2 linked regions of the Homo sapiens genome follow. The protein of the gene in region 2 purifies or fractionates together with the protein of the main gene of each other region. This does not show direct contact. Each region holds a gene or a part of one and is shown on either strand. Other genes may lie near its edges.

Region 1 (3,500 bases), on a different chromosome or scaffold from region 2:
TAGTGAGACCCCCATCTCTATGAAATATAAATAAAAAATTAACCAGGCACAGTGATATGTGCCTGTAGTCCTAGCTACTCAGGAGACTGAGGTGGGAAGATCTTTTGAGCCCAGGAGTTTGAGCCTGCACTGAGCTATGATCATGCCATGCACTCCAGTCTGGCAGATTGTCCCTAAAGCAAAATAATAATCAGTAAGTAAATACAATTATCCCTCATTAGTTTCTCACACAGCCACCACCAGACATTAAAGGCCACCAAAAATTAGTTCAACAAAGTTAGCAGAGCCAGAAGGGTGCAGAAACTGCGATCAAAGATTAGATTGGCTTTAGAGAGGGTGGTGTTGGGGAGGAAAGGCTGTTAGTGGGGAAGAGGCAGAAGGGCAAAGTCTGGAGTGTCCAGGAAGCTAGTGGCAGCAGGAAAGCACTAAGTATTCGACTTAACAATAAGGGCTCACAGAATAGCCACATTCTTACAAATGTCCCCCTCTTCACACACTTTCTCCCCAACTGACTCTGCCTAAGATTCTGAAACTGAAAGCTGACCAGTAAAGTACTGCGTGCAGCATTAAACGTTTAACGTGGCAGAAGTCTAGCACCATTTCCCAGGTCTTCCTCTCCCCAAATGTCTTTGTAGTTCAACTGTTTCCCATCCCTACTTTTCTCTGAATAAGAAGCATGCCTAGATAGTTTTCAGTTACGATGTTTTCTGAGCCAATGCTCTTGAGACTGGCTAATGATTCTTTAGTACAAATAATCAGGAAACTAGTGATAGGAACCTCTGAATAAGGCATTTACTCTTCAGTGAGTAAATTCAGGTAGATCAAACCCTCCTCCCACCATGACCATCAATATTCTCCCTTAAACCATTTAATGAAAAGAGTTTAGAAAAATATAAATCATCTGTTGTTTTGGCAAAGTCATACCACAAGCTTGCTGCCCACAGAGACTGGATTCAAACCATTTGTCTCCTTTGCTTTAGATGTGAGGACCTACCCAGTTTCCAAGATCTGACTTGGAGGCCTAAATCAATAATAATATTCCACATACATCTCCTAAAAGCTATAAAGGAATCATTCCAAGCTCACTTCCTTTTGAAGACTCCTTTGTGTAGTGCCCAAAATGGTGTGAACATTTTTGGTTGTAAAGTGGGAGGGTCAGTTTATGTTCAATTCCCTTGCTTTATACTACTGCTGTTTAATTGCTGACTCCCATTTTATAGCCAAGCCAATTAGTAGCCTTGGCCAAGCGTGAGGAGCTTGGAAGCCTGAAACATGGCACTCAGCTAAGCCTACAGATAACAGAAAGCCTTTTCTGTCAGAATTTCCCTCATGAGAGAGAGCTTGACCTGGCCAACAAATGTCAGAAGTCTAAAAGATGGATGTTGTAGTTCAGTACGTAGTGTCCCTGGGCACATCAGCAAGCACTCGAATCCTACTAGATTGAGTGACAGGACTGGTGGCCTGACACAGGTGAGGGAAATTTTAAAAGATGACTATTTCACTCCTCATCCAATTTACTGAACAATCTTACTCCCTTTTGTCTCTGACCAGCTTAATAACTTACTCCTTTGAGGGCTGTGACACTTTCTGATAATACTCTTGCTGTTAAAAAAGATGCTGGGTCATAGGCTGCCAGTTCCACAGCCTTCTGTTACTGGTTTACTCCAGGCACTCCAAAAAAAGCCAAGACCAGGTTAACAGAGAATAAAAGAAAAAAGAGAGTGAGGCTGGGCGCGGTGACTCACGTCTGTAATCCCAGCACTTTGGGAGGCTGAGGCGGGTGGATCACCTGAGGTCAGGAGTTCGAGACCAGCCTGGCCAACGTGGTGAAACCCCGTCTCTACTAAAAAATACAAAAAATTAGCCAGGCATGGTAGTGCATGCCTGTAGTCCCAGCTACTCGGGAGGCTGAGGCAGGAGAATCGTTTGAACCTGGGAGGCAGAGGTTGCAGTGAGCTGAGATCGTGCCATTGCACTCCGGCCTGGGAGACAGAGCAAGACTCTGTCTCAAAAGAAAAGAAAAGAAAGAAAAAAAAGAGAGTGAACAATCTGAGCTTTACTATTTATATATGAAATATAAACAGGAATTTAGTTAGCCTCAGGCTTCCAAATTTTTATTTTTATTTTTCAGACAGAGTCTTCCTCTGTCTCCCAGGCTGGAGTGCAGTGGCACAATCTTGGCTCATTGCAACCTCCGCCTCCTGGGTTCAAGCAATTCTTGTGCCTCAGCCTCCCGACTTAGCTGGGATTACAGGCGTATGCCACCATGCTCAGCTAGTTTTTGTAATTTTAGTAGAGACAGGGTTTCGCCATGTTGGCCAGGCTGGTCTCGAACTCCTGGCCTCAAGCAATCCACCCACCTCGGCCTCCCAAAGTGCTGAGATTACAGGTGTGGGCCACCGTGCCCAGCCATTTTTTTTTTTTTTAAGCGACAAGATGTCATTCTGTCTTCCAGGCTGGAGTGCGGTGGCGTGATCATGGTTCATTGCAGCCTCAAACTCCTGGGCTCCAGCGATCCTCCCACCTCAGCCTCCTGAGTAGCTAGGATTACAGGCACATACCACATGCCCAGCTAATTTTTAAAAATTTTTTGTAGCTATGGGGTCTCCCTGTGTTGCTCAGGCTGGTCTTGAACTCCTGGGCTCAAGCGATCCTCTTGCCTCAGCCTCCCAAAGTGCTAGGATTACCGCACCGGGCCTCAGATCTTGATTACAGGCTGATTAGTAACCAAGCCCATAAAACCCCAGGAAAAAACAAAGCCAAACAAAACAAAAAACCAGCAAAAAGTCCAGGCATGGTAGCTCATGCCTGTAATCCCAGCACTTTGGGAGGCTGAGGCAGGCAGATTGCTTGAGCCTAGGAGTTTGAGGGGAGCCTGGGCAACATGTCAAAACTCCATCTCCACAAAAAACACAAAAAATTAGCTAGGTGTGGTGGTGCAGGCCTGTAGTCCCAGCTACTCAGGAGACTGAGTCGGGAGGATGGCTTGAGCCCAGGAGGTGGAGGTTGCAGTGAGCTGCGATTACACCACTGCACTCCAGCCCAGGCAACAGAGCCAGAACCTGTCTCAAAAAAATTAAAAAAACCAAATCAGCAAAAAGGTCTTAGATAGCCAGGCATGGTCGCCTGTAGTCCCAGCTACTCACAGGGTTGAGGTGGGAGGATCACTTGAACCCAGGAGTTAGAGACCAACCTGGGCAACATAGCAAGCCCTGTTTCTGAAAAAAAAAAAAAAAAAAAAAAAAAGGAAGGACTTGAATAGGGCTTTTCCAAAAACTTAGAACTTCAAACTCTTTTAAAAAACTTTTATCACATCTCAAAATATACCATTCATCCAAGAATTAAAATATTCTGCTTTGGAGGAGCTCAAATTTCATATAAGCCTCTCATTAATTCTCCTTGGTACCTCTGTGAGGAGGTACTGACCCGCATTCAAGGTCAAAGAAAGTTTCCATGCCAAGAAAGGAGTGCCCTGCTCAAGGCCTTAGTTGACAAATGTG
Region 2 (3,500 bases):
AACCAACAGAAAACGAAACCATTGTGAACATACAAAATTTACCTGGAGCAATTCTAATTTTCTCTACCAATCAGAAGAGTGAAATACATCAGTGTTCTCAACTGGAAGCCATTCCTTCTATGACTTTTGCCCCTCTTCCAGGCCAGTGGCTGAGCAAGGGAAGGTCTGTGCATAGGGACCACCACTACAGCAGTGAGATCAGCAGCCCCTTCTGCATCTTTTGAATGATGAAAGGAACAAAATTCAATGCCCTAATCTCTTTGCCTTTATGTATTGGGCTAGGGTCTCTTAGGATAACCCAAATCATAATTTGCTGCTTAAATTAATCATGCTCTTCAAGAAATCAGATAGAAATAACACAGTGTATCTCTGTCACCTATCATAGGATAAAGCTAAAATCAATAAGGTAACGAAAATTGGGAAACTCACACATACGTGGAAGTTAAACAATAAACTTTTAAGCAACCAATAAGTTGAAGTAGAAATTAAAAGGGCAAATAGAAACTGTTTTGAGCTGAGCAAAAATTAAGATGTGATAGGCCAGAATGTCATGTTATTTAGCAAACAAGTGCCCAGAGGGAAATTTATAGTTGTAATGTCTAAATTTAGAGGAAAAAAACCCACAAATCAATAATCTACATTCATGCCACAACACAGTAAACGGAGAAGGGCAAACTAAGCCTGAAGCCAGCAGAAGAAAGAAAATAATACAGACTAAAGTACAAATTCATGAACTAGAGAATTAAAAAAACCCTGAAAAATTAATATCATTTCTATGAAGTGTCCAGAATAGGCAAATCTATAGATGCAGAAAGTTGACTAGTGGTTATATACGACAACAGGATTTCTGGCAGGGGGTTGATAGCTAAACATGTATGAGGTTTCTAGAATGACAGAAGTGTTTTAAAGTTTACAATGGTGATGGTCGTACATATCTTCAAATGTACTACAAACCATTAAACTGTACATTTTAAGTGGATGAATTACATGGTGATTTACATCTCAATAAAGCAGTTATTTTTAAGAGAGAGGGAGAGAAAAGGAAATAGTAGTCCACATACTTATTGAGAGAACGAATGGATCTAATGGATTAAATCTTAAAAGCTTCTTGGTGTTTTCCACAAAGGGGTCTTGTGGATTGTTGAGAGAGTCGATGCTCACTCCAAATGATGTGCTAGTGATCACATCCATGCTGTAGGCCCCAAAGACGCTGAGTGGAGAAAGATGTGGAAAATTAAAATCAGCACCTCTTTACCATCCTTCCTCTATGCGTGCAGCAGGAAATCCACATGTCCAGTCAAGACAGACAAACAGCCACAGACTTTCAGAACTATTTACTGGAGCATCTCCCATCACACTCCCTCAGAAGGTGATTATCAGGTGTCAGTGACACAGCTGGCTCTCCGCTGGGGGTGATGGAGACACTCAACTGAGTTAGACTTACCTCTGAGGTCAAGGAGCCTAGTCATAGAAAGACAGAGATCCACTATCAGACAACTGCAGTAGCATGTGTTAATTGTGGATGATACAAGATGGGTAAGCACTGTGCTTCAGCAGAACAAGAGTAGAAAAATTCACTCTTTCTAAGGGGCTCAAGACAGGTGACATTGCCTGACTACAGACTCTATGCCCAGAGCCGATTCCTCTTCAGCACTTTACAAAGCAACAGTACCATGTCCTGAGCTCCTAGAAATATCATCCTTATTCTCTATACTCCCTGCTCAAGCTTTGGAAAATTCCACTATCCCCAGCTGTGGTGAGCTGAGGTTGCCCTGATGGCAGAATTATTTTTGTAAAATATAATGACAAATGATGTCCTGGTTAAAAAAAACTCTCAAAATTTGATTTGGAAACTTCTATAGTGAGTGACCACATATCCCCTGTCTGCCCAGGACAGGCTCAGATTACACCTGTTGTTCCTGCATAAGTGTAGACAGCAAATAATAGGCTTGCCCCACCTATAGCGTTTTTACCACCCTCTCTCTTTGAGACTGGAGGAAAAAGAAATGGTGGGAATGTTTAATATTTAGTATTCTACTGATACCCTCAGAAAAAAAACATGAAATGATCAAAGTTATTCTAAGTTCTCCATTATAACTTTCCCACCCTACTCACTGCCAACCAACAGATACCAAGTGCCTTCCCCTTCCACCATCCCATACACTCCATGCTTAAAACTTTGATACAATCACACTTTTCCCCCTAAAGGATGTATTTAGTCCTCCAGAATATCCAAGGTGACAATTTAACAGATATGTAAACCCTGACCTCTGTGCACAGGGGAGAAGATCCTTTTCCTCCAGCTGCCCCACCTCCTCATCGGAGCTGCCCCATCTTGGGAGACCCATTGAAGTTGCATTACCACAGCCCTCCTTTTGTCTGGTCACTGGAATAACCCAACAGCGGGAGTATCAGCTCCATAGCAGGCAGCTGGAGGGGCTCATGACAGCTCAGAACCCCATGGCTGTGCTCCTACTTACTGTTTCAAGGTGACAGGCTTGCCTGTCTCTGCTTCCCGCCTCAGATTTCTCACCAACACATCTCCATACTGGGCAATGATAGGGACCATCTAAGCACAAAACACAACACCACCCATAGTTAAATGTGCAGACATAAGTCCCAGAAGGACATGACTTTGCCTGGCATGGAACAATAAGTGACATTGTATAATGAATTTTATGATGTGTTTTCTGTACATAAAAAGACTATTTTTAGGAAGCTCAAATTCAGCAGACTACTCCTCGGAAAGGAACTCTGATCTTACTTTCTACCTGTCCCCACCTGATTCATTCTTTAAGTTTCTAATTAAAACCCAAGTTATTTTCATACCTCCTTGAGTTTTCCGCTGGTGAATGTTGGAGACAGCAATGATCGTATTCTCTTCCATTCTTCATCCTCAGCTATAGAGATGGCATTTTTCATAAATCCCACTGGCCCGAAAGGCTAGAGTTCAAAGCAGAAAGATTTTGTCCTACATCAGTTGTGGAGGTCTCCATGGTTGTAGAAAATGTGTTAAACAGGCATCATGTATTTAACAAATATTTAGTGACTGTCTACTAAGTGACAGGCCCTATGACAGATGCTCAATAGGATTTATCCCACATGCCCAGCCACCTGATGTGGTCTCCAGCCTGTATATCCCAGTCTCCTTTTACATGCAAATTCTCCACATGGTACGGAACCTGTTCTTCCACTGGAATAGACAGGATCAACACCTAGCACGCGTGCAGTGTAGAGAGAGAGTGGAGACAGAGAGGCAGGTGGCTTTGTTGGACTGTATGTTGCCTCAGACGAGCTCTGTCTTTATGTTCACCTAAACCATGGGCAACATGAAAAAGAGGTGCCTTGATGTGGTAGATTTAAAAAAATATACAATGAGAACACATGGACACAGGAAGGGGAACATCACACACTGGGGCCTGTTGTGGGGTGGGGAGAGGGGGGAAGGATAGCATTAGGAGTTATACCTAATGTTAAATGATGAGTTAATGAGTACAGCA

What was found.
Region 1: the proteins of CYP3A7 (region 2) and CYSTM1 purify together in Homo sapiens (affinity purification with mass spectrometry, with the first as the bait; one large-scale study listed by BioGRID). This does not show direct contact.

The regions. Positions count from the first base shown.
Region 1 is NC_000005.10:140,178,188-140,181,687, reverse strand, and holds part of CYSTM1 (cysteine-rich and transmembrane domain-containing protein 1), read right to left. Parts: intron 1-3,500.
Region 2 is NC_000007.14:99,714,697-99,718,196, forward strand, and holds part of CYP3A7 (cytochrome P450 3A7), read right to left. Parts: intron 2,944-3,500; coding exon 2,830-2,943; intron 2,570-2,829; coding exon 2,481-2,569; intron 1,211-2,480; coding exon 1,062-1,210; intron 1-1,061. Other genes in the region: CYP3A7-CYP3A51P protein, read right to left, coding at 1,062-1,210, 2,481-2,569, 2,830-2,943. UniProt on the Homo sapiens protein: A cytochrome P450 monooxygenase involved in the metabolism of steroid hormones and vitamins during embryogenesis.